Linked DNA regions of Homo sapiens: regions 2 and 3 are each linked to region 1. Evidence: fine-mapped expression QTL. A gene starts in region 1. Each other region holds a variant in brackets. All regions are shown on one strand. Distances are from middle to middle. Region 1 holds the start of SLCO1A2 (solute carrier organic anion transporter family member 1A2). Region 2 overlaps SLCO1A2 (solute carrier organic anion transporter family member 1A2). Region 3 has its middle 31 kb from the start of IAPP.

What was found. PIP is the estimated chance that this variant, and not a neighbour inherited with it, causes the effect.
Region 2: its variant is fine-mapped to the expression of SLCO1A2 in lung (TOPMed, PIP above 0.99).
Region 3: its variant is fine-mapped to the expression of SLCO1A2 in testis (GTEx, PIP above 0.99).

The regions. Positions count from the first base shown.
Region 1 is chr12:21,328,772-21,339,677 of GRCh38, reverse strand. SLCO1A2 (solute carrier organic anion transporter family member 1A2) reads left to right here and starts at 4,761. Exons shown (of 15, transcript NM_001386879.1): 1 at 4,761-4,851; 2 at 4,969-5,090. The coding sequence starts at 5,031. RefSeq lists an enhancer at 266-772.
Region 2 is chr12:21,289,640-21,300,545 of GRCh38, reverse strand. It overlaps SLCO1A2 (solute carrier organic anion transporter family member 1A2), which reads left to right. Exons shown (of 15, transcript NM_001386879.1): 8 at 1-198; 9 at 2,978-3,142; 10 at 4,754-4,949; 11 at 6,436-6,601; 12 at 8,210-8,382. Among named protein-coding and RNA genes, the nearest start is that of SLCO1A2, 40 kb to the left of the region's middle. The variant CTTTGTG/G (reference allele first, on the strand shown) is at 5,205.
Region 3 is chr12:21,398,817-21,409,722 of GRCh38, reverse strand. It overlaps a transcript of SLCO1A2 not described here. Among named protein-coding and RNA genes, the nearest start is that of IAPP, 31 kb to the right of the region's middle. The variant G/A (reference allele first, on the strand shown) is at 3,850.

The DNA of each region.
Region 1 (10,906 bases):
GGGAGTGACTTTCCACTGCTGTAAATCTCTGAGTTGCCCACAATCCCACAATTTTTTTTAGCTCTTCTTATATCATTATAACTAGTTTTCCATATAATATCCCTCTATTAAATTATCTATTATGAGTTCTATTTTCCTATCAGGACCTTGACAAAGATAGAGACTGTCTTCATTTTGTAGAAATATTAAGTAACTTGTACAAAAACACACGGCTAGTTTAAAAACAGGCTTTCAAACCAGTTGTACCTAATTTCAAAGCCCAAGTATTTGAACTACTATGCTGCAATCAAGTGATCGTTCAAATGAATACCCAAATGAATAGTTTTCATTAATCACCTCTTTCTATTACTTAGCTCAAATTGTCTGCATTATGGCACTAACTAGCTATCATCATCACTTAACTATCTATCTCTCCCAATTGTTTATAAGGTCACTTGAGAGCAGGCACATTTTATTCATCTTTGTATCCCCAGTACCTACTACTGTGCTTGGAATGTAGTGGATTCTTAATAAATATTTGTAGAATAAATGAGTAGTAATCACTGTCATTGACAGAGTGACTATTTTATTTCAGCAGCCCTGCAAGGAGTCTTATGTAAATTTTATAACTCAATCTTCATGACAATCTTGCAAAGTAGTCATAAATATTTCAATATCAGAGATGAGGAATAGGCTCAAAGAGTTTAAACAGCTCACAATTAATCTGCTATTAATGCTAGGCTAAGTGGATTACAAGGTCTGCTATTTTGACTATGTCTAGCTGCCTCCCTACATAAATTTATGTGAAAAATACATAAATAAATGTGTTGGAAAAAACTCAAATCATTTTATTGAATTTTCAGGTTTTTTTTTGAGCCTTATAAACAGATAAAGTCTTGTCTCTATGAGAAAAAGGAGCAGCTCAGTGTTTACATGCCATATATTGGCACGTAATGGAAATACATATGTTTGTACTTACCTAGTCTACGCAGATAAAAGGAAAATAAGAATTGGGATAATAATCTGAAGAAATGACATAGTTGATATTGCTGCCAAACTAAAATCAGAGCTGGACAGTAAAGTGGTAAAAGATTTCATTAAGGGACTACTGCGATAGGAGAAAAGAGACCTCAGTGTAGTACTGGGCTCAATTCCGAATATAGCTTGGACAGATGGAGATTTTTAGCCAAGCAGCAGGGTGGGGGCCAGGGGATGGAAAATTACTAAGAGGAAACATCGGGAGTAAGGAGGGATTGTGGCTAAACCAATGTGACAGGATTTTTACTGACTGAAGGCCAGGATGATCAGATATCGCCTGGGGGGTTCCGGGGGATGTAGAATTTGATCAACTATCAAGATGATCAGATATCAAGAGTGAGGGATTCTCTCCAAACAGACTTAGCAAGATTCTCACTACAATTAGGCAGTAGAGGGTTGGACACCAAGACTGAGGCCTAGAGCACATAGAGGAGTCAGAACTAGACTTAGGTAAAGGAGTTCATCCTGTTATCAAGTGTGGAAAATGCTGGTTAGCCACATGATTATCTACTCATTCTCTAGAATTACTTGGTATGGTGTGTGACATTGATGATATTTACAACCAATTCCCCTAAACACAGAATTCAGGTTTCAACTTTACTTTTCTGTTGCTTGGTCTATTATCTAGAGTTAGTACATTATCTAAAGTGATAGGGTAGGTATTTTTACTGATGGATTGTTGATGAAAGTGTTTACTTGTGTTTTTGTGAGTTCCAGTCTTTGCTTTGCATGGTGAAATCACATGTATGGATAACATTTTATGGCTCAGTTAAGTTTCTGCCATAGTTTTTCCAAGCAATACATTCTTAGTACCTCCTCTGAATCTAGAAAGTAAAATAATACTTATATTTATAAGACTGAATTGCAGAATTTATTATTTTATTCTTTAGTTTCTGGTGAAAATGAACCAATAGAAGTAAAATAATTTGGTAGACAAAATACAAAAAGCCATTGTTGATTCTACATGTAATTCATTGGCACATACTTGCTTGGATTAGTATTGGTTGAAATTGTTTCAGCTGGATACCACCCAAGAGGCTGTTCTTGTCTCACAGAGCTAGGAGCCATTTCAAGATCCTGGAAATAAGTGATTTTCATAAGATTTTTGCTAGTGTAAATTTTTTTTTTCCCTAGGGAAAGGATGATCTCCTAAGTCTTCTTCATGTATGTACTACTAGCTTTGCTGTAAAGTAAGGCCTTTATTTCATTAATTTGAGAGTAGAGAATAATGTAAAATTAAACACAAGCATTTTTTCCCAGTTGATTTCTAACAATCACAAACTATATTAATTTGTTTAATACTGCAAGAGCACAAACAAGATTTGTTTTATATTTGTTTCATAAAACTTTGTATTATTGTTTTATAAAACTTTGTATTATCTTGTGATTGAGACACATCATTAGGGGCTGGAAGCCAACAGGTGTCAAAAGCCCCAGTGTTGCTGTTCAATGGATATAGAATTACAGTCATGCAAGATGAACAAGTTCCAGAGATCTACTACATAACAATGTGTATATAGTTAACAATTCTGTACTGTGCACTTAAAAATGTAAGAGAGTAGAGTTCCTCTTATTTGTGTGTTTTTTAAAATCCCAATCAAACAGAAAAACAACACAACACAGAGCTATGACCAGCAGGCATGGAAGAAATCCAACGTTTGTGTGAGAAAGCATACTGAAGCATTACCTGTTCCCATTTGAATGCTGAGAAAGAGTTAGGGAAATAACATGATTCTCCACTTAATAAAACTTCAGCATGTCTTTTTCATTAGAAGTGATGATTGACAGGGATTTGTTGGTGACACTGTGTGGTCCTGGGAGCAGAAGTCACTGTGTAAACAACACTGTGCTAACAAAAGAGGACTGTTCACATGGCTGGCACTAGCACAGCCTCGAGAAGATGAAAAGACGGCACACGGAATTTCCTGATTTGGGGCCAAGATGGACAACAATGACTATGATATTAACCGTTGGATTTTATGGATTTTTATTGAATAAATGGAATAGATTTTGTTAATTTGTTTATTTTCCTCCATGAAGATGTTTGAAATGTATCTGAAAATATAAAATATTTTCATCATATAAGTTGGAAAACTAGGGAAAGTTTAGGGTTAATTTAATCCCATGTAATTCTTTTCAAGTGCTTAGCCTTAAATATTACCTCTTACTTCAGTTAAGATAATAGTTTTTTAACCCCTTTTTTCAATATGTTAAAACATTTTGAAGCAAATCTTCCAGACATAGTGAAAAAACCTGCTCTAGATGGTTACTTAGTGTCACAATTCATGGAGGGAACTATATAGAATTCCCCTATATGGTGATTTTCTGTGGCACTACCTCCAGCTTTTATGCCCTCTGGCTATATATGAAAAAATAGACATTTAATATAGTAATGTTTTTAGCCACAAAGAAGAGTGAAGGCAATTTTGACGTGGGAGAAGAATAAGTTCTCTCCCTTAGTGTTTGATACGGTGACTATATTGGGCTAAGATAATGGTTAGGAGAGAGAGAAGAGAAAAGGGGAGAGAGATTGGGTTCTAAATGCACGAGAAGAAAGAAATGAGGGCAGTTCAGAACAATAACCTGTGAATTTTTTCACCACTTACATACCAAGCAAATTGCATTTCCTTCTACACTGTCTGGTTCTATTCCAATGTGTTTTATTTAAAAGTTTTATCTTTCCCAATGAAAGTTTAAGTTCCTTGGAATCTGGGTCCAAGTATCTTCCACAGAAACATACTTCTCTCGCTAGTTTATACTCTCTGTAGGCACGTACTTGGCTTTCTTGCTCACTGCTGAATGCTGGTGCGTAGCACCATGACTGGCACAGAGTAGATGTTCAATAAGTATTTGTTGTATCTGTGAGAGAATGTGTTAAAATAACAAAACTCAAACATAATAGTGCAGCGACTATGCCTTGATGTGTGTGTGTTTGGGATTCAGCACATTTGTAGAGGTAAAGCAGTTGGTTTTTTAAAAAATTAGTGCCATTCAGGATCACTTGTTAAATGGATATTGTTTAAAGGACTTAATTAATTAATGCTGGGGATACTGTTAAGAAATCATTCTAGAAACTAGAATAAATATTGCCAAAGTGAAACACTTTGGTTTTGATACAAATTATTGCCTTAGTTTCAAGATGTAAAACAAACAAAATCTTTGATGGGATTAGTAGAATTTATTTGAGTTTAATTCAACTTTTTGTTTTACATATAAAAATGTGTGCCTGTATGTTATACATCTGTACATATATTTCCACATATATCTATACCTATTACGTATAGCTACATATAGATACCCATTTATATGTTTAATCTCCTAAGTCTTACATCTTAGTTTGCAATCGTGGGATTATTTTCCAGATCATAGAATTGTTTGTTATTTTTACTAGGTTGTTTTCATGATTAAAATTCCGTGTCTCCCCAGGTTTCCATGTATCAGCAGTGCCCCAGAAAGTGTTTCCCTTCCTGAGACTCTAGGGAAGCCTTGGAATGCAAATAACTTGAAAAGAGAGCCTGGCCAAAAAAAGATTTTTGAGCCTTGGTAGGGTTAGTGAAGCAGGTTTTTAGTACAAACACAACTCAAAGTATGTGTGTTATTAAAAGTAGCTATTTTCATGGAAGTCTTTTGGTACTATTTGTTTTGGCTAGAGAAGTGAAAAGCTTTCTTTTAACCATGTGACCATTATTTTGCAAGATCATAACAAACAATTCTAATATCTTTAATCTCACTAAAGAGTCACTAAAGTTATTTGATGTACCTTTTGAAATAGAAAACCAACAACTAAATCTTCTCTAACACCATGATTTTCTAATCTGTATTAAAGCGTTCCAGGTATTTTTGTAATGCAATGGATTTCAATTATGTTGTTCATTTTCAGCACTTACTTCAAAAGAATGATGCTTTACAATTTTGTAGTTAATTTAACATATTTTTTTGTTTGCTTGAAAGGGTAGAAGTAAGACATATCAAGATTTAAAACATAAATAGCTTGGAACACCCTGAAGAGCAACATGGGAGAAACTGAGAAAAGAATTGAAACCCATAGAATAAGATGTCTTTCCAAGTTGAAGGTATGGAATTTTTGTATGTGGATATATGTGCATGTACACTAGTTTTTAAAATACGACAGTCCTGGTAAAATTGCTCCTATCTGCATGAAGTGATCTAATATTAATGCCATATTGCCTGTTCTATTGATAATTTCTTGCTTTAAAGAAGTTGGTTTTATAACTGAGGGTGTGTCTACACAGGATTATTGATTCAGGCAAGTTAGTCCTAAATGGCTTTGAGAGACTTAAATGGAAGACAGGATCCTAAAAATTTCCAGGCACACATACTGTGGCAGGATTTATTTTTCTGGATCAAAGGCCATGCTCACTCTTGCAGGGTTTCTAACCCAGAGAAATGTGGGAGTCACTCTCCGAAAATGGCTCATTGCACAGAAATGCTTTGTTGATTTGTATGCAATTACCCAGCAAAACAAATGTTTTCTTTAAGCTTTGGCAACATAACAATAATTTCCTGTAAGAAAAATGGCCATTTTGTCAGCTGTTCTGATTTTTTTTTCTATTTCAGAGAAAATTCTGTTTTCTAGCTTCAAAGTCATTTATATTCAAACAAATTTGAATTTATGATAAACCAAGGGATCTGGACATTTGTCCTGATTCTATAGCTAGTGCCTGCAAGTGGTTTCAAAACTAAGACACTGTCACTCATTTTCTCCCTATCAGAAGTTTGTTTTCCATTTATATGTGTGTTGGGGAAATTTAAACATGTATACAAAATTGGAGAATTATGATATAAATCTAAAAAAAATAGACTTGCCTGAAATGGTATGTTAATTAAGAAAAACTTTTTGTGCTTCAGTTTTCTCATCTGAAAAGGGTAATAGCAACATTCCCACCTTATAGGATTCTTTTATGTTTGAAACAATGACTGGAATATTGTAAACTTTCAATAAATATTAGCTATTAATATTAAAAGCATTTGTGGAGAAAAGTCAAGTGGTATTTATAAACAAGAGGTCTTTAATTTTTGATTGCTTTGGAGTTTAGCAAGGTTAGATATTAATGTGGATGTTAAGACAAAATGCTGTAAGCACAAGTTTATCAGGTAAAAGTGAGAGGCAATTGCTTAATAGCAAGTTAGGTTTCTCTGTTTCTCTGAACTTAGAAATATACTCATTAAGCAAAATTCATTAGGAAGCATGAAAGAACTATTTTTAACAAATTTGCTTTAAACTTTGTTGTTGAAATAAGTTGAAAGGGCATTATTGCTAGAAGCTAGTAGGACCAGCTTTATAAATACAGAGATTATTTAGCACTAGACATGAGTCAGAATAGCCACTGATTTCTTTCACTCTGCGAATAAAACCAAACTAGTTAGGCAACCCATGTGTTTTAGGGGAAAAGCAATGAGGTCATGATCCATCTAATTTCTTTTCTTAACATGTAAAGTAGAATAAATTATTTTTCCAAATTTGATTTGTACTTGATTTAGTAGGACTTGCTTTTAAATATAAAATCTGATTTATAAAACTAGGTGAAAATAGTTTGCTCTTAAGAATACACTCTGAGAAGGTTTATAGTGGGAAGAGAGAATATCCACAAATGGTATTCAATATAAAAAATAGCTAGAGATATGGCCATACTATGCTGTAGTCAATCAGTTTTGATTCATATTAAGAATGCTATTCAAATTTCTAGGTCCTTTTCACATAAATTTCTATTTAGGTCTCACAAAAATAATTGATAAATTTTGGCTTAGATGTATTGTGTGGTGTGAATGTGTCCCATCCAAATTCCCATGTTGAAATCCTAATTTCTAAGGTGATGGCAGTAGGAAGTGGGGCCTTCGAGAGGTGATTAGGTCACAAAGGTAAAGCCTTTATGAATGGGTTCAGTGGCTTTATAATAGAGGACTAAGAGAGATTCACTGCATTTTCTGCCATGTGAAGACACAGTGAGAAAGATGGTAGTTTATGAATCAGTATATACAGCCTCTAAGCCACAAATAAAATTCAACCCTCCCACCCCCTGCTCCCAGCACTGAATGGACCTCCTCTTGGTCAAGAGCCTTCCAAAGTTAGTCTAAAAAACAAGTTTAGGCTGTTATGGGAAGGAGGTGTTGGACATGCCTCTTTATACCCTCCTCTCTTTTGGAATTCAGGAATAACCAACCATCATTAACATCAACACAGACCTTAAGTCTGATAAGAAACATTTATATCCATTCTCTATGAAGCCTGCGTATCTAGAGGCTTTATCTGCATGATAAAACCTTGGTCTCCACAAGCCCTGATTGTAAACAGGAAATAATTTTTTATTATTGATAATAACTCTTCCAACCAATTGCCAATCAGAACATTTTAAAATCTACCTGTGACCTGCAAGTTCCTGCTTTGAGTTATCTTGACCTTCCCAATTGAACCAATGTAAATCTTACATGTATTGATTGATGCATTATGTCTTCCTAAAATATATAAGAGCAAGCTGTACTCCACCTTGAACACATGTTTTTAGGACTTCTCTGAGGCTATACTGTAGGCATGCCTTAACTTTGGCAAAATAAACTTTCTAAATTGATTGAGACCTGTCTCAGATACTTTTGGGTTCACAAATTAGCAGCCATGAAAGGATTCTGAGTGGAGGTGCCCCTGACCTTTGATGAATCTCCTGTGGGTACTTGGTACCAGCCTGAGCTATCCTTATGGCTCAAACTGATAGGACAATTTGCTGAGGCCTGGGAGCCCCCACCCACTCCAGAGAATCCCCAATCCCCTAAATTTGGTTAAGATCTAAAATTTATTTTTCTCTACAACTCCTATTTTTTAGTTTTACTTGTGTCCAACAAAGAAGGCAAGTTTTCCTGCTTCCATGACAATGGAGCGTGGGCAACTCCTTTCTGGAGTTTCAGCTAATTTCCAACAGGGAAGGCAAGTTTGAGCTTTTTTTTTCCTGCCTGTAAGATGGTAAACAGCAGTCTTGAGCCAGGGTCTCATTCCTAGATAAGTAGCTGAGTTGGGTTTTTTTTTTTATCTCAGCGATTCTCCTTAATGACTAAAAATTAGAATTGACAGCCGGCTAGTCTTAATTTCTCCTTAGCATTAGAGTGCTCAGTAATCATATTGTTGGGGTTTTTTGTTGTTCTGGTGTTTCTCCCATCAGATTTGACCAACTGTACCCAACTTGGCCAAATTCAAATGAGAATTCCAAATTATGAGCAGCCAGACCTCTGAAGCTGCTAAAATTCCTCATAACTGAAAAAAAGAAAACAAACAAATTATGCGCTTGGTTTCTGTTGCAGCTTCCTGTCTTAAAAACACAATTGTTCTTTCATTTTCTTTTCTTCCACACTATTTCTCCTTCCCCCTTCACTGTCTGGTACCAAAAAAAATCTAGAGAAGCCATCAAATGACTTGAACCCCTTAAAACACTCAGAACAAAGGCATCACTCACCCTTTCTTTCTCTGTGGAGTTTCAAGAGTCATGGGCAGATTCTTCTTAAGGTCTAAAGTGTTCTTATTCAAAGGTAAATTATTTTTGTCTAATTCAGAGGTTATTTAAGGATTATATATAAAATGAGGTAAAAAGGACCAGGAAATAAGAGATGTAAAGAAAGTTATAAAGAGGTATTTTTGGTAAGAAAGCTTAAAAGAAAAGTAATTTTATATGAGAAAGAATCTTGCATGATGAATTTTTGTCCTAAGATAAAATGACTCGTTCAAGAAAGAGAAATATTTATGTCAAACCAGAAAGTCCAAGCATGTTGTAAATGGTCTGTGTAAGTTGTAATAAGGTTAGTAAAACAGGAATTTGTTAAAATGTTATGTGATTCAGTTGGCTACAATTAAAGGAAATTATAATAGTTTTTCTAAAAATTGAACTTTGATATTAAAAGTACACTCATGCAACACTAAAGAACTGGTTAGAACAAGATTTATTAAAAATGTTGAGTTACTCTTAATGCAAGGACTTTAAAATTTTTGAATTCTATAATCTTTTTCTTTTTAAAATTATTTAGATTGATATCTCAGAACCTGTGCCCTACTGCTTCAGTTTTTTTCTCTTTTGAGAAGGCCTGGAATGGTAACTCTCTCCTTCAACTTTGTTTGGCTCCTGTAACTTTTTACTTTTATTTTATTTTTTTTGAGGCAGGGCCTCACTCTGTCACCCAGGCTGGAGTGCAGTGGCACAATCTCAGTTCACTGCACCCTCAACCTCCCAGGCTCAAGAAATCCTCCCCTCAGCCTTCTGAGTAGCTGGAACTACAAGTGTGCACCACAAAGCCAAGCTTTTTTATTTATTTATTTATTTATTTTGTATTATTTATAGAGATGGAGTGTCACATGTTGCCCAGGCTGGTCTCGAACACCTAGACTAAAATGATCTGTCTGCCTTAGTCTCCCAAAGTGCTAGGATTACAGGCATGAGCCATGGTGTCTGGCCTTTTTAAGTTAATAGTTGAAACTAAGAAACAGAATTTTTGAAAATAGGCAAATGAAAAATATTTTGGATCTGCTTTTGTCTGTATGTCTGTTATAGCTATATGTTTATATGTGTCATGTAGAAGTAATATTTCACTACCAAATTATATTAAAGACCTCTAATCACTTGGCTAAAAGAAAAATAAGTGCTTTTCAGACTGAAGGAAGCTACCAAAGATGCCTTTTAATTCATATGACCTTAGTAGTTTTGGGTAAGACTAATCTGGTAAATTTAATCTCAAAATTACCTCCAGTAGTTTAACATCTTAAAGTCATGTTATGTTAAATTAAATAACTCCTATTTTTTTCAATGGGAATCTGGGTTACTAAGAGTTAAAATAGTAGGAGAGTAAATAGTGTTTTTGGTAAAATTTATAAAAATACAATGATGTAGCTTTTGCTAAAGAATTTTTTTTTCTAAGAGTTATTTTAAGTAAAGATAAAAATATTATATAGATAAAACTAAATGGATAAAGAGAGAAATTAAAAGATGAGTGAGGAGAAACCTTGACTCCAGGGTGGCCATGTGGTTACCTATGGTAGGGAGATGCAGCTGAGCTACATTCAATTACAAAAGATAAAATTCATTAGAATTTAGAGATGGATTATGCTCCCGAGGAGTTAGCTCTCTAAATGCATAAGGAGATGCAAACTAATAAAAAAAAAAAAAGCAAAAATATTCAATCCCTTGGTTATTGTTATCTGTAATTGCTAAATGAATGTACAAGAATGCTGGGTTGATCCTTAAGGCTGGATCAGGCCCAGAGGTGGGTCTGTCCCAGCTCAAGCCACTAGACTCCAAGCTACCCACAGAAAGAAAAATTAAACCAGAGCAACAAAAGTTACCTCTGAGAGCTGTGGTTACCAAGAAGATAGTCAATATGTGGGAAGGGCAAAACCAAGTAACTATTAAAACCAGAGGGTATAATGCAAAGTAATTGTTCCATTTTGTAGATCAATATAATCAGCTTCTTGAGAAACCTTAACTACTTTAAGGAAAGAATCCTTTATTTTGAAGGCTACAAAATGAAAGAGCTTGTTTGGGTTGATGCAGGATTCACAAATCACTATTAAATTGCTGATGAGTATATGTGATCCAAATGTATACGAGGTTATTCATAAGAGAACAACCTGCCTAACTGACTGGATAATTGCTACTGTAAGGTCTGTTTACTCTGGAAATGGGACTTCCCAACCATCCCTATAAAATGCCAAGTGGAGCACCCCAGATAATGTAGTTGATATGCTTCATATGCAAGCCATGTGAAACTGTCTTTATAACTGGGATATTCTCCCATTGAATATGACTAGTATCCAGTTCAGTGCCCTGTAACCTCTCCCCTCCCCTTTGCTCACTGTCCTGGAGTGGCACTGGCCTCTGAAGTAATTCTTTTTTGGTCT
Region 2 (10,906 bases), 39 kb after region 1:
ACACTCGTTGGGTCGGTGCATGGTGGTTTGGCTTTCTGATTTGTGCAGGAGTTAACGTGCTCACTGCCATTCCTTTTTTCTTTTTGCCCAACACACTTCCAAAGGAAGGACTAGAGACTAATGCTGACATCATTAAAAATGAAAATGAAGACAAACAAAAAGAAGAGGTCAAGAAGGAAAAATATGGAATCACTAAAGGCAAATATACATATTCTAAATACTATGAAATTGACCTTTTATTTCATATAGATATGTCTGTATTTTAGTCTAACACTATGATATGCTATGCTGTGTTGAGACAATTTGTCATCAACAGTCACCAGTCAAGAATACCTAACTAGTCCGATTCTTCCTATGGTACTACTTGAAAATAAATATTATAATTTGGAAGCTGAAATATTTCAGATCAGCATTTGTGTAAACTTTTATGTCAGTCTTGGCACTCTCCTCTCTCTCTCTCTTTCATATATATATACACACACATATATATGTACACACACATATATATATACACACATATATACACATATATATGTACACACACATATATCTACACACATATATACACATATATATGTACACACACACATATATATATGAGAGAGAGGAGAGAGAGGGTCATGTATATATATACACACACGTATATATATATATACACGTATATATATATACACACACGTATATATATATACACGTATATATATACACATATATGTGTGTGTATATGTGTGTGTGTATATATATACGTGTGTGTGTATATATATATATATATATACACACGTATATATATGGTCCCATTTGCTCAAAAAACCGATTTTACAGAGAACATAGGTTGAATTGAAACAAAATGAACAAGCAAATTTAAACTAAGAACAAAAGTAGGAAAAAGTATACTCTAATCTTAATAGGTAGTATAGTTTTGTAACCAGTGTGTTAGTTTAACGAAGAGCTTCCTGGAAGTTAAATCAGAAAGAAAAAAAAAAACATGATCGGTGACCCACCTCTCTATACTTGGTAGAGGGAAGAATAATAATTTTTAAACAGAAGCAGTTCTCCAAGGAAGAAATTGTAAAAAAATTTAAAAATGATCATAAGATACATGATACAGGTAATATTGAGCCACATAGTGGTTTTCCAGCAAATGAAAGGGTAAATTGCATGTAACATTTTTTTTGGTACAGAACCTCAATAAAAGCTCAAAGTATAATTTACAGAAGGTTTTTCTGTGGGAAACTAAACTAAGATAGCCTAAGTATTTAGTACTCAAGAGCACTGATGCTCAAACTTGGCTGCACATTGGAATCACCTAGGAAATTTTAAAAATGATTGATGCCTGAAAGTTCTGTAGTATTCCCAAAAGGTCAGATTTAATTAGTGTGGATGTGCAGCCTGGCTATTGGAACTTAAAAATGTTTATTTGACGGATGGTGAGGGTCTCAGTTTTCTGTCAAATGGGGATAATAATAGTACTTACTATAGAATTGTTGTGTGAAGGTAAAAGACATTCTAGCACACATTATTATTAATACTGATACTAGTGTTAGTACTTTTATGTTGTCATTGTTGTTTCTATCATCACCCATAAGTTACAATGTCAATTTGCATAGAATTTTTCTTAACAATTGTAAATTCTCTTAAATCATAATTGAGCATAATTTAATACATCTTTGGTCATTAGGAGCCAACTCAGAATCTTGCAAATTCTCAGAATCATTCTGATGATATTAAAAACTCTTCTTAAAGGATTGTTATGGACTGATAGACCTCTTGCAGTCTGCAAGATCAGTTCCATTTTCAAAATTAGGAAAGAGCTTAGCTTGTTGCAAGACATAGAAAAGAAACTTGTGCTACTGAAACTCATCTATTAGGACAGGGATGTCAACAAACATGGGTGACTTAAAAATCTTCAGATAACTCTCTCTCCTGTCAGGTACCCTATTCATAAATATAAATTTTACAATTATAACTCATTTACTTGCATTAATCTGTGTGTCCTCCTCTTCTAAATTGTTTATTTATTGAAATTTTGTTCCAGAATGAATTGTGAGCAGTTTATTAAGCAAACCAAGATTGTGCATAAGAAAGTCAAGACAGAGAACATGTGGACAGGAAAAGTGAAAGGAAATTAAAAGTGAGAACTTGAGCCTGAATGGTAGCAGTGTGACCAAGAACATTTACTAGAAGCAGGCCACACATTACTAGAGGCAGGCCACACATTACTAGAAGCAGGCCAAACATTACTAGAGGCAGGCCACACATTTGGCTCTGTGCTTTTTCTAACAGGAATCATTTTTGATTAAATCATTTACATAGTCCTTAGAATGTACCAAATGAATCAGCATCTCTGAGGATGGGACCTGGATGTTGGTATTTTAAAAAATATCTCCAGGTAGATCTTGCTGAGAACCAATGGCAGAACCACTGAAACTGTTGTTCTGAAGAAGCAAAAAAAAATTCCGGATACTTGAGAACATTCATATCTCATTAATTCCCACACATCTTTATTTCAAATGTTCAGGGAGTGATAAAATAAATATTTGTGTGAAATCTTCTTTATCAACTCGATTTTCCTCCAGACTTTACAGAACAGAACAAGCATCTTTCATTCTAATGAGCTGTAGAAAAAAGAATATATTAATAGAAGAACAAAAGGTTAGTAATAAAATGCTGTGGACGTAGACAATATTTTGGTCACTTTGTAGTTTTGCTTACTGATCTTTAAGACTCAACAGTGACTTATTGAGGGCAAAACTGTTGTGTTCTGATCCCTACCCAGTCAGCTACATCACTGACTTCCAGAAGCCACCAAAACATTGCTATGACTTCAGCTTTCAAGGGGAAAAAAGAATTAGCAAACAATACATATTACAAAATAGTAAAAAACATAATTTGTTGAGGAGGTGGATGTTTCAGGAAAAGCCAGTCACAAAATGCAAAGCCAAGTTCGTTTGACACAGTTGTCATTCTTTCATTTCAGATTTTCTACCTTTCATGAAAAGTCTTTCCTGCAATCCAATTTATATGCTTTTCATACTTGTAAGTGTGATACAGTTCAATGCATTCGTTAACATGATCTCCTTCATGCCTAAATACCTAGAACAGCAATATGGAATATCATCTTCAGATGCAATCTTTCTAATGGGTATGTTTGTTTTTCTCTGCCTTACTAGCACACTTTCCCCCCCACGAACAGTGTGATGGCGGGTGTAGCAAACTCCTAAGTTGAAGTGTTTTAGGATATTTTTTGACTCTGGTGGATTTCTTCCTTCTAATCTCAAGAAAGAAAGAAAGAAAGAGAAAGAAAGAAAGAAAGAAGGAAGGAAAGAAGGAAGGAAAGAAGGAAAGAAAGAAAGGGTAGGGAAGGGAAGAGGTCAGAAATACCTTGATTTTCTTCTCTCTGAAGTCAGAATGTGAATTCATAATATGAATGCAAATATTTGGGAGTGCAAAAATTACATATTTTCAGATAGGATTGTGCATTTTACTACCAAATTTTACTCTTTTTGGTTCCAGTTCAAGGATTCTATGTTCCTCCTAATTTAATTTTTTGGTCCCCCTAGTGGTTTTAGGTGTCTCTGCAGCCACACACATTCGGCTTTTCCTGCAACCACACTAACCTCAGTGGTTTTAGCCTAACTTGGGTTTTTCCTGGGATCTTTCCACTGTTTTTAAAAGTCAATATCCCAGGCTACTTGTATCCACACTACCTAAAGTGCTTGTGAAAGCTTCAAATACCTGGGGTTCCCCCTCAGACACACTGAATCAGACTCTAGGGCGTGGGGCTCTGGAATGGATTTTTAACAAGCTCTCTCAATAATATGATTCGGGGAGCCAGATGCTCACATTGTATAGATGGAACCTAGGGCTATCTTCTCCTTTTTCTATTCTTTTTTTTCACTTATTGGGAAGGGTTCAGAGAGGAAGAGCCAGTAGCAGCAAGACATGAAATGTAAATACACTTGACAGCAACAGGCTCAGCAAAGTGACTCTCTAAAGTACCTTGAACTGGGTGTGGTGGCTCATGCCTTTAATTCCAGCACTTTGGGATGCTGAGGAGTGAGGATCACTTGAGGCCAGGAGTTCAAGACCAGCCTGGACAACATAGCAAGACTTTGTCTCTGCAATTTTTGTTTTTAAATTAGCCAGGTGTGGTGTTGTGCACCTGTAGTCCCAGCTACTTAGAGGGCTGAGGTGGGAGCATCTCTTAAGCCCAGGAAGCTGAGGCTCCAGTCAGCTATGATCATATCACTGCACTCCAGCCTGGGCAATAAAGCAAGATTCTGTCTCTAAAAAAAGAAAAGAAAAAGCACTTTGAGAGGAGTCTAATTCTTCACAACCAAAGTGAGGATAGGTAACTGAAAAATTGTATATATATATTCTCACTACACAGAATAGAGGGTAATAAATGAATAAATTACTGGCCAATTTTGACTTGCCACTTCTACCTGGATCCTAAGAAAAGAGATTTTTATCATGATCTCTGCCTATAAGAAATTCACAAGCTACTGCAATGAGTTAAATGAATGATAATATAATAACAAGAGTCTCCCAAAATATACTTCCCCATTATGGGGGCATTTCAAAATCTCCCTGTGGGTAATGTGTAACTAAGTGGGGATAAAATTAAATCATTCTTCTTCACTATGAGTTGGACCTAAATAGTTACTTATATAAGGCATATTACATAAAAGTGATAACATATTTGTTCCTTTGGTAAGTCATTTTGTAAATAATATTTTATTTGCATTTATAGGTATTTATAACTTACCTCCAATATGTATTGGATATATAATTGGTGGTTTAATTATGAAGAAGTTCAAGATTACTGTCAAACAAGCTGCCCACATAGGATGTTGGTTATCCTTACTTGAGTATCTTCTCTATTTTTTATCTTTTCTCATGACTTGTGAAAATTCTTCAGTTGTTGGAATAAATACCTCTTATGAAGGGTATGTTGTTTTCTAATGAATGTGAGAATCTTTCAACAAATGGTTAATATGATATTTTTTACAATGGCAATGCACGATCAGATCATTTTCTTATTGGAGTTAATGATAGTAATCCATGCTTTTCCTGTATCTTTCCTCCATCTGTCAATCAAGCCAATCTATCCAAGCTCTAGGCTTATTAATGAGGTTGGGAACATATCACAGGGTGAGTGAATTTATGATTGTATGTGCATGTGGGTGTGTGTGCATGATTGT[CTTTGTG/G]ATATCCGAGTAGACATTATCCTATGAAAGAAACTACCTACAGTTTCAGGTTGTATTAAAATATGTTATCCATATATCTTATACTCCCATAACTGAGTAAAACTAAGAGTTGATTATACAGTCAAAATGGCCTTTATATGTTTCCCCAATGGGCTTAAGTTTGGCATAACTAAATCATAATACATGATAAATTAATTAATACATAATTCATATATTTCATTTATATTGCTATGTCTAAAATATTGAATCATTTCATATTTTGTATTTTAAAGGTTATCTGGGTTTTACTGAAATGTTTTCCATAGTGATGTACATTAAAAGAATTCACCTGTAGGGCGTATTTTGACAATCAAGCTATCAGTTAAAATGAAATAAAGAACATCCTAAAATGTTTTTTCAAAATTATCAAGGTTTATTAGATTGAAATAATTTCAAATGTAAAATAGTAATATAATTTTACATATGCTATTTGATTTGAGACTCATGAGCTTCATCTAAGATAAGCATTATTATCTCCACTTTACAGATTAAATTGAGATTCAGAGAAATTTAATGATAAAAGCAGTTCATTTCAAATCTCTTCAACTACATCAATATAGAAATGGATTTTAAAATTGGAATAAATTTTAAAGATTGCCTCCATCTCCAATGATGCTGATTCCCAGACAGAATGTGTAGAAAGTCGCACTGTGATCTAGTCTGAATGCAGTCTCTAAACTGCTATGCAAGTGCTCTTTCAATCATATTACAAGCACTGGTCACTTTTTATATTAGTAGAATGCACTTCTTTAATTCAAATACCTATGTTTCTGGAGCTAAATGTATTATCTATATTACAAATGGAACTTTCAGATTTTTATCTTCATGCTAGTCCTGTCTTGCTATTTGCTACCTAATGGATGAATCACAGAGATTAGTTCATCTTCATCTTTCGAGATCTAATAGTATGTGAAAACATGACTCCACATGGTAGGTGCTCAATTAATGCTTGTTTATTGCCTATATATTCTTCTGAGATAAATCATTGAAGGAGTGGCTATGTGGTCATCAAAGCAGGTCTCTTTTATACCAAAGCTATAGTAAACAGGTCACACATTGATGACTGGAAAATTTCTCTTTCTATTCATGGGAGGAGAGGAAATCTAACTGGGGATTGAGATGAAAAGAAGAAAAAAAGGATTGAATCCTCTTTTAATATCTATGGCATTATTTTAAATCACTTCAGAATTCCACAAGATTTATATGTGGAAAATGACATCTTTGCTGATTGCAATGTGGATTGCAACTGTCCATCTAAAATATGGGATCCTGTGTGTGGAAACAATGGCTTGTCATATCTGTCAGCTTGTCTTGCTGGTTGTGAGACATCCATTGGAACGGGAATAAACATGGTAAGACATCCTATTTGACAGAACTTTTTTGAGTTGCATTGGTACTTCCCAACTATGAACTGGGCCTATATTTAATAAAAGTAAAATTAGTGTTTCCTCAAAACCATATTACTTTTTTTGTATGTGGAAAAATAACTCTATGATGGTCACTTGATTACCTTTTATTTCCCAGATCTTATGTGAAACCTCCATAGCATCTGACCAGTGATCTGAAATTTCCAAGAAGTTTATATTATTACTCAAATAATTTGGGTTGTAAATACTCTGGACTAAAAAAATTTTATCATTGAAATAAAGTTGGTGGTTTTGATTTCAATTGTCCAGCTAATTGCTTTGCTATATATATATACATATATATATACACACATATATATATATTTTTCTGTGTATATGTATGGATGTGCTTTCTGTGTTTTTCACATTCTGACAGTTCTTTGAGAATTTAGAATTAGGAATGTTCTCTTGCCTCTAAGATATCACAATATAATATAACATCAATTGTAATATTAATATAACGTTGGTTGGTGATCAAAGTAAACTATAAATTTTGATTCTTATTAAGACCTGGAAACATGTAACAATTCAAAAAAGGTTGACAATTCTTTTTTTGAAAGAAACTATTTCTTTTCTTTTCTTTTTTTTGAGATGGAGTCTCACTCTGTCGCCTAAGCTGGAGTGCAGTGGCATGATCTCGGCTCACTGCAACCTCCACCTCCCAGGTATAAACGATTCTCCTGCCTCAGCCTCCTGAGTAGCTAGGATGACAGGCACATGCCACCATGCCCGGGTAATTTTTGTATTTTTAGTAGAGACGGGATTTCACCATGTTGGTCAGGCTGGTCTCGAACTCCTGACCTTGTGATCCGCCTGCCTTGGCCCCCCAAAGTGCTGGGATTACAGGCGTAAGCCACTGCGCCCTGCTGAAATAAACTATTCCTTTGAAGCAAAGCTTTATTTGTAAGCATCTAAATATTTCAGTTGAGCACTCTGAAACAGATTTTGTTTGTCCAATGTAGTGTTGTATCAAAACACTGTTTTAAAAAGTGTATTAGCTGGGCGCGGTGTCTCACACCTAGGAATCCCAGCACTTTGGAAGGCAGAGACCGGTGGATCATCTGAGGTCAGGAGTTCGAGACCAGTTGGCCAACATGGTGAAATCCATCTCTGCTAAAAATACAAAATGTAGCTGGGAATGGTGGCAGGCGCCTGTAGTCCCAGCTACCCCAGAGGCTAGGGCAGGAGAATCACTTGAACCTGGGAGGCAGAGGTTGTAGTGAGCCGAGATCGCACCACTGCACTCCAGCCTGGGCGACAGGGTGAGTCTCTGTTTCAAAAAAATAAATAAATAAATAAAATAATAAAAAAGTGTGTCTTTAGGGTAACTTATTAGTTATTACAAATTTACTATTCATATTTAGAAAAATATACCGTTTTTCTGAAATCACCCTTCCAGTTTTGTTATATGGTGTAATCTTGAGAGACATCATAATGGAGATGGAGTAAAGGGAACAAGCAGTCTCCATCTTGATCCAACTGGCTGTGTAGAAAATGTTTAAAATTTGTGTTCAAGATTTTTACTTCTTAGTATAATATGTTATTTTTTGGCAGGTGTTCCAAAATTGCAGCTGTATTCAAACATCAGGAAATTCATCTGCAGTTCTTGGGCTGTGCGACAAAGGACCTGACTGTTCCTTGATGCTCCAGTACTTCCTAATCTTGTCAGCGATGAGCAGTTTCATTTATTCTTTGGCTGCCATACCTGGATATATGGTTCTCTTGAGGTACAAAATTATTTTCTTTATTTATATTTTTTTGGGGTCATTTATTAAGGTAGCTTGTTCTAAGAAAGTCACTCAGGACTCAGTATCTAAGAACTCAGTGCTCTAACGTACCATTTATTAAGGGTTTTGTATTAAGCATTGTTGGATTTCACAAAATTTTAAAGTTAGCAATGCACATGTTCATCTGCTGGCATTTCACTCCTATTCCTCGCTACTTTTCTTCCTTATTTCTTAGAGTTAAATGAGTGGACCTCTCATTTTGTGACAAAAGAGACACATTTATATCTTAGGGTAGGCCGTATAAAATGGCCATTTTGATAGGTAAAGAGTGGGTGCCTAGCAGCCATTTCCTAGGGTTCAACCTATAGGACAGCAGTGCAAAGCTGTCAGAAGCCCCCATCTCGCTAAGGTCACTTGATCTTTCTGAGCTCCATTTTTCTTTAATAATAATGGGCATAATAATAAATACTTGGCTCTCTTACAAGGCTACTGTGAGACATCAATGCTGAAAGACTTTCTAAAACTAGGAAATTGCAGAGCCAGTTTTCAAATTTAGGTATATTAAATAAATCTTCTTTCAACTACACCAGTCTTTGTGCCTAGTAAACAATCCTGAACATAATTTGCATTTTTTCTCTCTTTTTCTTCTTCTTTTGGAGCTCTAAAGTAGAGTTCAGTTAATCACAATGCTCAAGTCATAACACATTATCATCATAGGCCAGTGCAAGGATTCTCTCTTATTTTACTTCATTTATTTATTTATTTCTATTCAATTCCCTACTTCCAGTCACCATAGCTGCTCACTTAAGTATGACAGATAGATGTCTTAAATATGTATTTCCTTTGTAAAATATTAGAATTTTTTGTGTGCATCTGTTTTTATATTCACAACAATGGTGGTGTGGTGTTAAGTCTTGTTCCGATTCATAAGGTAGATGCATAGATAAATTCACCAGTCCTATTTAGAGTAATTTTTATATCATCACTGCATGAGAGTTAGAATTATCTAACTTTGTGATGTTGACTAATCCAATGGGTGTAAAATACTAATGATAGCTCATTGATGTGTCAATATGTGATGTCCTGATACACTGAGCTTAAGCATCTCTTCAAATAACTTTGTAGCTAAAAGTTATTCATGATGCTTATTCAATTTATTTTACCCACTTTACTCATTATATTTCCTGCATCCTATGTTTTTCTTGATGAATTTGATGATTACTATGTAAATTACAGATATTAATGTAATACTGTTTATATGATACAATTATCTTCACTTAGTCTGTCTTCTTTCTTTTAACTTTTACAGTGCCATTTATGAAATGAAATCCTAAATTTTGTTGTACTAAAATCTAACAAGTTTCTTACCTTAGTGTTTGTGTATTTGGAAGAGAAGTCACATTTTTAAAATTGCTTCCACATTTCTAACTTATAAAAATATTCCCTTAAATTTTATTCCCCCCTGGCTTTCCCGCTTTACCTTTTGCATAGTTTTTTAAGCCATCTCAAATCTATTTTTATATGTGGTTTAAGGGACATAGATATCCAGTGTTATTTTTCTCCGAATAATAAAGTTGTTTTCCAAAATCATAGTGTATATAATACGTCCTTTTTCCTTTGATTTGTGGTGCCACCATCTCAAGTTTTTATAATTAGTGAGTCTATTTTTCATCCTTATTCTGCTCCACAGATTTATTTGCCTGTTCCCATACCAGCGTCACCTTGATTTAATTACTTTGGCCTTGCAAATGTTAATATCTCATATGGTAACTTTGCCTCACCCACCTGCCATCTTCACTTTTCCTTTATTCTTTCTTTCTCAAACTTATTTTGCTGTCTGTGGATCTTTATATCTTCATAAGAATTTTGACTGAGTTTGTGTAGATTCCATAGATTACTTGGAGAAAATCTGACATCAAATATTTTTGAACATGTAATATCCTGTCATTTGCTTAAATATTCCTTTGTATCCTTAAAGTTCTTAAAAATTTTTCATAAAGGTGATGTGCCATTAGATTGCTTCTTAAGTACTATATATAAATATATAAATTATATATGCACATATATACATATATATGTCTCTATATGCACACACACATATGTACATACAGCCACACAGATACATACACACACGCATACATACACACACACACACTGAGAAAAACAAACGGTTTCTCTATTCAAACAGAACACTTCTGATAGCCAGATGTGTGTATTATTTTCCTACACTGTTCAATTCTGCAACACCAACTGGGTGTTCTACTGTTCCATGCAATTCTAGTGCTATCTGCATAGACTTTGCATCAGATGGCAAAAGTTAAACGGTTCAGTCCTACAAGACTGCCCCCACTTTAGATGTCAATCACAAAATCACAAGTCCAGACACCCTGGGCTGCTTTTTTTTTTTTTTACCCTGGGCTTCTGACTGACAAACGATGCATTAAGGTTGATGCCTCCATTTTCTAGAATGGTTCACAGAACTCAGGGAAGAAACACTTTTCTTACATTTACTGGTTTATTATGA
Region 3 (10,906 bases), 70 kb before region 1:
GAATGGTAGATGTGTCACCATAGACATGTGAATTCATCTTAATACTTTGCATTGGGATTTATCCATTTAGCCATAGGTCCCAATTTTGACTAGAGCTTCTGCAGTCACTACCACAAACTGGCCACTACTGCTACCAGAAGCATTGTTTTGCACCAGAGATCAGCAAATTTTTCCATAAAGGTCTAAATATAATATTATTATATTACAAATATTTTAGGCTTTGTTAGATGTAATATCACTGTTTCAAATATCCAAATCTACCTTGTATTTGTGAAAGGAGCCATAGATAAAATTTGAATGATTGAACGTGGCTGTGTTCCAGTAAAAACTCTAATTACAAAATCAGGTGGCAGGCCAGATTCTACCCACAGGCTGACCCTAGTTTTATACTATCTATCCAATAGTTGGTCTTTGTATCTTATAGAGGCGGAATATGAATACGACATGTTGCCAATATGATGAGATGGTCTTTATCCCATGTCTTAGAGTTTAATGAGTTATACCACAACAGTTGCTTCATCTTCCAATATGAAAAGAAGCAAAACCTCAGGATCCACCCTACAGGAGTCCCTCCAACAGAATTATCATCAAGTGACACTATCTCCAGAGTTACGAATTTGAGATGAGAAGCAAACAGTAACAGAATTTGAAAAGAAGATTCTCAGTTTTCTTTGGGAACTAAAACTTGGTTGCTTTTAGAACCCAGGATACCTTTCTGAGGGTGATCCACAAACTCTGTCTACCTCTGCCGCCTTTTTATAAGTTTGGCACAATTTGAAAGTTTTATTCTACCAGCCTTTAAAAAGTTTTATTCTACCAGTTATTTGGAAGTTGTTTTAGAAGAGCGTTGGGGATGTTTGGTGGTCTTTGGACATAAGTTTCTCCATCCTATTTGTTAGGATGGACAACAAGCTCACTTTTTGCCGTGACTATTCTCTGTCTTATCTATAAGTGCGTGTGTGCGGGAGCACGTACACACACACACACACACACACACACACACACACACGCATGCGCTGAGGCAGCCAAACATCTTCATAGCTGCTTCCCTGATGTATATGCTTGCCTAGAACTTTTACTTGCCAGCTTACAGGACTAGTATCTTCAACATGATACTGAGTTTCATCAACAGAGAAGGGGACTGGGACACTTTTCGTTGGGCAGTTGCGGATTTCTGGTAGACTCACTGGCAAATTGAAGAGGAGTATGAGCACAGGTCTTTAAGTACAACATTATGTGTGGTAAAGTAGTACTGAAAGTTAAGAAATCGCATTGAATATTGGGAGTAGAGTGAGGGTCAACAGTGACAACTTAAAGGACTCTATGTTTCACTGTTGCTGAGGGAGGAATGATGACCTTGGGTAGATATTTATTCAAAGAAGAGTATTGTTTCTGATTAAAAAAAAGAGGGAGGTTGATAGACACAAAGAAGCAAGGAAAGAATGTGTTTTTATGACTAAGGGACATTATCAGTGTTTTAGAAACACTTTATGCATGGTTAATAAATTCGTTTGTCATATAAAACAGGCATTTTTGTGTATTTTGGACAGGCCCATCTAAGTCACAGGAACATTATTTTGTGTAAAAATTTACCAGAGTAACTAAGGTACTAGGGAAAATAGTTTGGTGCCTTAACAACTCCTTATCTGAGGAGTTGCCACAGAATTTTCTAAACATTCCCCCTATAGAAAGACTTCCAGAAAAGCTCAGTCAGTAAACCTTTCAGGCTCTCTCCCAAATATGTTCTGAATGTGTGCAGATTTTTACTGTCAGTTGCACCAAACTTATACCCATTGACCATATCTTGCCTGGGCTTTTGCAGTAGCGATTTGGCTCTACTCTTCCTTCCCCTGGCCAGTCCTGTCTCCACAGAGCAGCCAAAGGCTTTTTTTTTTTTTTTTCATTTATTTTTATTTTCATTAGACAGGGTCTCTGTCACCCAGGTTGGGGTACAGTAGCACAATCTTGGCTCACTGCAGTCTTGACTTCCCAGGCTCAAGTGATCCTCCAGCTCAGCCTCCTGAGTAGGGAGTAGCTGGGACTACAGGCACTCACTACCATGCCTGGCTAATTTTTGTGTTTTTTGTAGACACAGGATTTCGCCATGTTGCTCAGGCTAGTCTTGAACTCCTGAGCTCAAGTGATTCGTCTGCCTTGGCCTCCCAAAGTGCTTGGATTATAGGCATATGCCACTGCACCTGGCCCAAATAGGCCTTTTGAAAACACAAATTTGATCAAGTAATTTTTCTGCTTCACACCCTCCTATGGATTCCCATTTCCAATAGAATATAATCCTAACTCCTTGCTGGGCATAGTGCAGTACATGACCTGGCCTCTGCTCAACGCTCCAACTGCATCTTGTTCCTCTTTCCCCTCGGTGAGGATAACTCTCTTTCTCCAACTACACCAACCTTCTTATCAAATATGCCAAGCTTGTTTCCTTCCATCCTAAGGCTTTTGCATTTGCTGATCCCCACGCTTGAAGGGCTCTGTCTCTAGATATTCACGTATTTTTTCCTTCTTATGCTTTGAATTTCATTTCAAGCATTATTTCATCAAGGATCTTTCCAGTCCACTCCCAAGCCCATCATTCTGTTTGATTTTCTTCAGAGCACTTTTGCCTTCCTGAAATTATTTTGTTAAATTGTTTCGTAAAAGCCTTGGATGATCTTGACAGAAGATGAAAAAGTGAAACAAGGAGGTAGGTATGGGTGGGAGCCAGGCATGGGGCCAGGGTGCTTTTGAACATACGCAATGTGTCTATGTTTTCTTTTGAGAAAAGATGGGATATATAAACTACCATATGTTTTCTGTGGTTTGGTTCTTCACTGCTTTGAACATTCTAACAGTTTATACATATTTCAACAAAAGAAAGAGAAAGAACATGCATCTGTCTCCAAAATTATTTTAAGTCTCTTTCACATCTATTTGCTAACCTAATATCAACTACTGAGAGGCAGTATAGTGTAGTGGTCTGAAGCTGACTGAATCCCCATTCTTCTGCTTACCAGCTGTGAAATCTTGGGGATGATAAAGCCTATCTGTACCTGTGTCCTATCTGTAAAAGTGGGATAACAATAGTACTTATCTTAAACATTTGTTGAGAGGATTACATTAGTTAACAGCCCTGTGTTCCTAGAATGACCTGTGGCACATCATAAATATTCAACAACTGTTAACTCTAATTTTTACCAGAGAATAGAAAACAATCCTGCCGCTTGAAGCTTCTCAAGAGAAATGAAAGATTGAAATTTCCATTTCCACTCCAGATGAGGTGGCAGGAGTGATCAGGGCTCCTCCCCTTACTTTTGAAGCCATTCCCAGGTTTTGTCCATAGAGCTTCACTACTGGCAGATGTTTTTCTGTCTGTCCTTCAAACTACTTAAATAGTTGGAAATAGTGAAAGAAGTCTCATCATCAGCAACTGAGAAGCAGTACAAGTAACATCTGAGAAATTCTAAAAGGGATTTTAGAAAAAAATGTTCTGACTTGGTTACCAAGTGTTGCGCGTGCATGCACGCATACACACACACACAGACACACAGACACACAGACACACACACATTTTAAATATATCTACTCATTCAACCTAGCAAAAGAAAAGGATTCCCTCTTAATCTTAATTGTTGACTTATTTTCTTTCTTCCTTCAACCAGACAAAATCCATGAGTAGTAATTTAGACTCTTTTGCTTATAACAATATCTCTAGGACCTAGAAATATTTGGCATGGAGTAGGTGCTCAATAAATATTTCTTGAATGAAATAACAACATCAGCAACTCTTTGAGGTAGGTGCTATGATTATCCTGTGGTATATGTTTAAAAATGAGGTTAATTAACTTGTCCAAG[G/A]TAACAGCTACTCATGCTAGTGCTGGGTTCAGCTAGTGCTTTTAAACATTCCATAGCATTGCATCTTGTTTCTCCCTTTAAAATATCAATCCACTTAAGTCTTTAGTCCATCTGGAGTTAATTTTTGTATAAGGTGTAAGGAAGGGGTCCAGTTTCAATTTTCTGCATATGGCTAGCCAGTTCTCCCAGCACCATTTATTAAATAGGAAATCATTTCAGGTTTGTCAAAGGTCAGATGGTTGTAGATGTGCGGTCTTGTTTCTGAGATCTCTTTTCTGTTCCTTGGTCGATGTGTCTGTTTTTGTACCAGTACCATGCTGTTTTGGTTACTGTAGCCTTGTAGCATAGTTTGAAGTTTGGGTATCATGATGCCTGAAGCTTTGTTCTTTTTGCTTAGGATTATCTTGGCTATATGTGTCTATACTTGTCTTTTTGGTTCCATATGAATTTTGAAGTAGTTTTTTTTCAAATTCTGTGAAAAATGTTAATGATAGTTTAAGACTCAAATGTAAAACCCAAAACTATAAAAACCCTAGGGGAAAATCTAGGCAATATTATTCAGGAGATAGGCAAGGGTAAAGATTTCATGATTAAAATGTCATAAGAAATTGCAACAAAAGCAAAAATTGACAAATGAGATCTAATTAAACTAAAGAGCTTCTGCACAGCAAAAGAAACTATCATCCGAGTGAACAGACAACCTACAGAATGGGAGAAAATTTTTGCAATCTATGCATCTTACAAAGGTCTAATATCCAGACTCTACAAGGAACTTAAATTTACAAAAAAAAAAAAGCCATTAAAAAGTGACCCAAGGACATGAACAGACACTTCTCGAAAGAAGATGTTTATGCGGCCAACAAACATTTTAAAAAGTTCAACATCGCTGATCATTAGAGAAATGCAAATCAAAACCACATTGAGATATCATCTCATGCCAGTCATAATGGTGATTATTAAAAAGTCAAGAAACAACAGATGCTGGAGAGGTTGTGGACAAATAGGAATGCTTTTACACTGTTGGTGGGAATGTAAATTGGTTCAATTATTGTAGAAGACACGGTGATAATTCCTCAAAGATCTAGAACCAGAAATACTATTTGAGCCAGCAATCCCTTTAGTGGGTATATATCCAAACAAACATAAATCATTCTGTTATAAAGATATATGCATGTGTGTGTTCATTGCAGCACTATTCACAATAGCAAAGACATGGAATCAACCCAAATGCCCATCAGTGATAGACTGGATAAAGAAAATGTGGTATATATACACCATGTAATACTACACAGCCATGAAAAGGAATGAGATCATGTCCTTTGCAGGGACATGGATGGAGCTGGAAGCCATTATCCTCAGCAAACTAATGCAGGAACAGAAAACTAAACACCACATGTTTCTCACTAATAGTGGGAGCTGAACAATGAGAATACATGGACACAGGGAGGGGACCAACACAAACTTGAGCCTGTCAGGGAGCAGGGAGGGAGAGCATCAGGATAAATAGCTAATGCACGTGGGGCTTAATACCTAGGTGACGGGTTGATAGGTGCAGCAAATCATCATGGCACATTTTTACCTATGTAACAAACCTGCATGCCCTGCACATGTATCCTGGAATAGAAAATAAAATAAAATAAAATAAATAAATCCAACTATCTTATCCACTCCATTACAAATTACACCTGGATATGACCACCTAATTACTTTACATAGCCCCTAATCTTTTACTCATCCCATCCAGCTAGAAAGTTACTGATACAATAATCTGTAGACACTGGTTTTCGCATCTCAGTCTACTGTTCAAAAATGTCAGTGGCATCCCATAGAAATGAATATCCTTGTCCGCATCAACTCTGTTTTCAAGCTTATTCCCGTTTTGGTGTCATTTTTTCTTAGATATCCAGCTACACTGAAAGTTGAACTCATGCTCAAATATATGTGTGTCAGTTTACTCAATGAGTACATTAACATATTATATTTGATTTACAAGACACTTGTTAAAGGTGCCTTAATCACGAAAGAAAAAATCTGAGAAAATTGAGGCTCAGCAAAGTTTAGTGCCATTAACTGAGGTTTTTCAACAGGGTATTGGAGCCAAAGCCACGTAAGAGTTAACTGTTTGAAAAAACAACCACCAAAAAAAAAAAAAAAAAAAAAAAGCAAGGAGGAGCCTCTGGTTCCAAGTGAGTACAGTAATCTTAGAACCTGTTCCCAAGATTATAACCTGCTTTATGCAACCATCAGAGCCAAAGAAACTTAACCAAAGGTTTAAAACTTACATAAACAAAGATTCTTTTATTTACAACTCTGCTTCTCTGATGAACAAGAAGCTGCAGCTTACACGTTTGAGGTGCCTTATTCATACTGGCTACTCAATATGTAATTTTTTAAAAAATCTGTTGGTCTTACAGTATGGAAGCAAAAATGAATGGTGATGTTGGTGAATGCTAAGGTAAAAGTCCTTCATTTATTTGGGTTGTTGTGGGTTGCAATTTAGTCATTTGTACTTGGAAAAATATAAGGAGATTTAATGCTTAGTTATAAGTATAAGATTCTTTGGGTTTTCTAATTATCTTGTTTATACATTCCTGACAGCAATGACAATTGTATTTAATGCAGGATTTGTTTTGTGCGGTAGTAATAATATTGTTTGTTTATGCATGCACAGATACAGATTTACATTTTGAGTTTTCAAATATGTAGTTACAAGTGGCTTGGAGCGTTAGAAGTACATTTAAATGATTCCGGATAATGTTGTTTTCCTCCTGCCTTGTCATTGGCCTGGAAAGTCCCTTTTTGTTTATCCAGTTCTTCCACAACCATCGTTCAAATTCTGATCAAGCCCCGTGTTCTTCACATGTCTCTCTCTCTCTGGAAATCTCAGAACATTAGTTGTCTATAACATACATATCTACACACTTAACACTCACATATACACATTCTACTGGAGTTTTCTTTTAAAATTCAAAAATGAGAACATTATTTTTTCAAAGCTAAGTAACAGAAGAGTATATAAAAAAGTCAATTTTGGGCGTATCTTTTTACATTTCTTTCTATGCTCATGTAAAACATACATGATTTATGTAATTATACACATATGCTCCCCCACAACCCTTAGTCACAAATACAGGATCATCATTACCTACATATGTGGACTTGTTGCTGTAATCATTTAACTATGAACTATGGACATCCCTCTAGGTCAGCATGTATATCTAAATCATGGTTAGTCCCTAAATCCTTAGATAAGAATATCTATTTCTGCAGAATGGATTTCCAAAAGTGGAATGCCAGAAACATTGTGTACTGCAATATGCAATCCCATCACTTCTCCACCCCATTCCATTGTATGTGATAAATCTTTCAAAAAATTTTTAATTAACTGTATGCAAAAATAAGGGTATTGTGCTACTTTTCAATCGCATTTCCTTAAATACCAGTGAGATTTAGCATCTTTTATAAAAAGATTATAATAATTTTTGTCTATTTGCATTTTCCTCTCTTATAAACCCCAGTTCATACAATTTACCCATGTTTGCTTTTTCTTTTCAATTTGCAGAAGTTCTCTATTTTACATTAGGGTTATAAAGCTCACCTCTCATATACGTTTCAAACATGTTCTCTATTTTTTAAAAACTTATTTATGGTACTTTTTGCCTTTGTATAAATCTGTACTATTAAAGAAGTAGACTCCACAATTTTTTTCCATTATAGTTTCTTGGTTTTTTTTTTTTGTCTTTTTTAAAAAAGTTTTTCTTTAACCTAACATTACTCTTATTTTTCACATAATTTTTACATTTTATTTTAACATTAAAATCCCTAATCCATTGCTCTTTTTCATCTTTAAACATGGATTATGCAGGAATATTACTATTTTCTTGCTGAATGAAGATCTAATTATAATTATAAAATCATTTACTAAAGAAGCTATACTTTCTCTGCTGAGCTATTATATATTTATTATGTATATGTATATTTCTGCTGAAGTGTTTATCATATAATACATTTTCATTTATATTTATATTGGATACAGTTATAAACTCAGTTTTGTACAGTAACTAGTACATTTTTTGTGGTCATAACATGTTATTGTAATCCAATTAATATCACAGAAGGCTTTAGTATCCTATGTCAGGTACCGATCATCTTTTTCAATATTTTTAGGTAAATCTTACATATTTATTCTTCCATATAAAATTTTAAGTCAAACAAAAAAGTAGAAATAAACAAAATATAAAATGATTAAAATTAAAAATCATTTAAAATTATAAAGGAAAATCCAAATAAAAATTAGTATCTCAATAAAATTATGATTAAAATTGCATTACATATTTATACTTATTTAGGAAAGATAAAGGTTTTAATAATATTATGGAGGTTTTTTGGTCCAGTAAGCATGATAATTTTTCTTAATTCATGCAAGATGACCTTCAATATAAAATTTTGTATTCTTCTTCATACAGTTGCACATTTTTGTTAAAGTTTTCTGGGGTACTTTATTGTTCGATTGTTATTGTGAATGATATTTTATTTTTATTTTAATTTTTGTATTATACTGCCAGCATAAAGAAAAGCCTTTGGTTTTATATATTTTGTATCATGTTGCTGTATCAAATTCTTTTATTAATTACAATATAGGAACTTTTTTGTGATTTACAAGTATTAGTAATTGTCTATAATTAAATATATTTTGTTTTTAATTTACTGTATTTATGTATTATTTTCATTTTCTCATTTTCTTGTATTAGCTAATGCAAGAAATACCACAACAGTGATGAATAATAATGATATTAGCTGGGAACCTTTATTTGTTCCTGATTTTTTTTTTGTCTTTTTTTTTATTATTATACTTTAAGTTTTAGGGTACATGTGCACATTGTGCAGGTTAGTTACATATGTATACATGTGCCATGCTGGTGAGCTGCACCCACTAACTTGTCATCTAGCATTAGGTATATCTCCCGATGCTATCCCTCCCCCCTCCCCCCACCCCACAACAGTCCCCAGAGTGTGATATTCCCCTTCCTGTGTCCATGTGATCTCATTGTTCAATTCCCACCTATGAGTGAGAATATACGGTGTTTGGTTTTTTGTTCTTGCGATAGTTTACTGAGAATGATGATTTCCAATTTCATCCATGTCCCTACAAAGGACATGAACTCATCATTTTTTATGGCTGCATAGTATTCCATGGTGTATATGTGCCACATTTTCTTAATCCAGTCTATCATTGTTGGACATTTGGGTTGGTTCCAAGTCTTTGCTATTGTGAATAGAGCCGCAATAAACATACATGTGCATGTGTCTTTATAGCAGCATGATTTATAGTCGTTTGGGTATATACCCAGTAATGGGATGGCTGGGTCAAATGGTATTTCTAGTTCTAGATCCCTGAGGAATCGCCACACTGACTTCCACAATGGTTGAACTAGTTTACAGTCCCACCAACAGTGTAAAAGTGTTCCTATTTCTCCACATCCTCTCCAGCATCTGTTGCTTCCTGACTTTTTAATGATTGCCATTCTAACTGGTGTGAGATGGTATCTCATTGTGGTTTTGATTTGCATTTCTCTGATGGCCAGTGATGATGAGCATTTTTTCACGTGTTTTTTAGCTGCATAAATGTCTTCTTTTGAGAAGTGTCTGTTCATGTCCTTCGCCCACTTTTTGATGGGGTTGTTTGTTTTTTTCTTGTAAATTTGTTTGAGCCCATTGTAGATTCTGGATATTAGCCCTTTGTCAGATGAGTAGGTTGCGAAAATTTCCTCCCATTTTGTAGGTTGCCTGTTCACTCTGATGGTAGTTTCTTTCGCTGTGCAGAAGCTCTTTAGTTTAATTAGATCCCATTTGTCAATTTTGTCTTTTGTTGCCATTGCTTTTGGTGTTTTAGACATGAAGTCCTTGCCAATGCCTATGTCCTGAATGGTAATGCCTAGCTTTTCTTCTAGGGTTTTTATGGTTTTAGGTCTAACGTTTAAGTCTTTAATCCATCTTGAATTGATTTTTGTATAAGGTGTAAGGAAGGGATCCAGTTTCAGCTTTCTACATATGGCTAGCCAGTTTTCCCAGCACCATTTATTAAATAGGGAATCCTTTCCCCATTGCTTGTTTTCCTCAGGTTTGTCAAAGATCAGATAGTTGTAGATATGTGGCGTTATTTCTGAGGGCTCTGTTTTGTTCCATTGATCTATATCTCTGTTTTGGTACCAGTACCATGCTGTTTTGGTTACTGTAGCCTTGTAGTATAGTTTGAAGTCAGGTAGTGTGATGCCTCCAGCTTTGTTCTTTTGGCTTAGGATTGACTTGGCGATGCGGGCTCTTTTTTGGTTCCATATGAACTTTAAAGTAGTTTTTTCCAATTCTGTGAAGAAAGTCATTGGTAGCTTGATGGGGATGGCATTGAATCTGTAAATTACCTTGGGCAGTATGGCCATTTTCACGATATTGATTCTTCCTACCCATGAGCATGGAATGTTCTTCCATTTGTTTGTATCCTCTTTTATTTCCTTGAGCAGTGGTTTGTAGTTCTCCTTGAAGAGGTCCTTCACATCCCTTGTAAGTTGGATTCCTAGGTATTTTATTCTCTTTGAAGCAATTGTGAATGGGAGTTCACTCATGATTTGGCTCTCTGTTTGTCTGTTGTTGGTGTATAAGAATGCTTGTGATTTTTGTACATTGATTTTGTATCCTGAGACTTTGCTGAAGTTGCTTATCAGCTTAAGGAGATTTTGGGCTGAGATGATGGGGTTTTCTAGATATACAATCATGTCATCTGCAAACAGGGACAATTTGACTTCCTCTTTTCCTAATTGAATACCCTTTATTTCCTTCTCCTGCCTAATTGCCCTGGCCAGAACTTCCAACACTCTGTTGAATAGGAGTGGTGAGAGAGGGCATCCCTGTCTTGTGCCAGTTTTCAAAGGGAATGCTTCCAGTTTTTGTCCATTCAGTATGACATTGGCTGTGGGTTTGTCATAGATAGCTCTTATTATTTTGAAATACATCCCATCAATACCTAATTTATTGAGAGTTTTTAGCATGAAGGGTTGTTGAA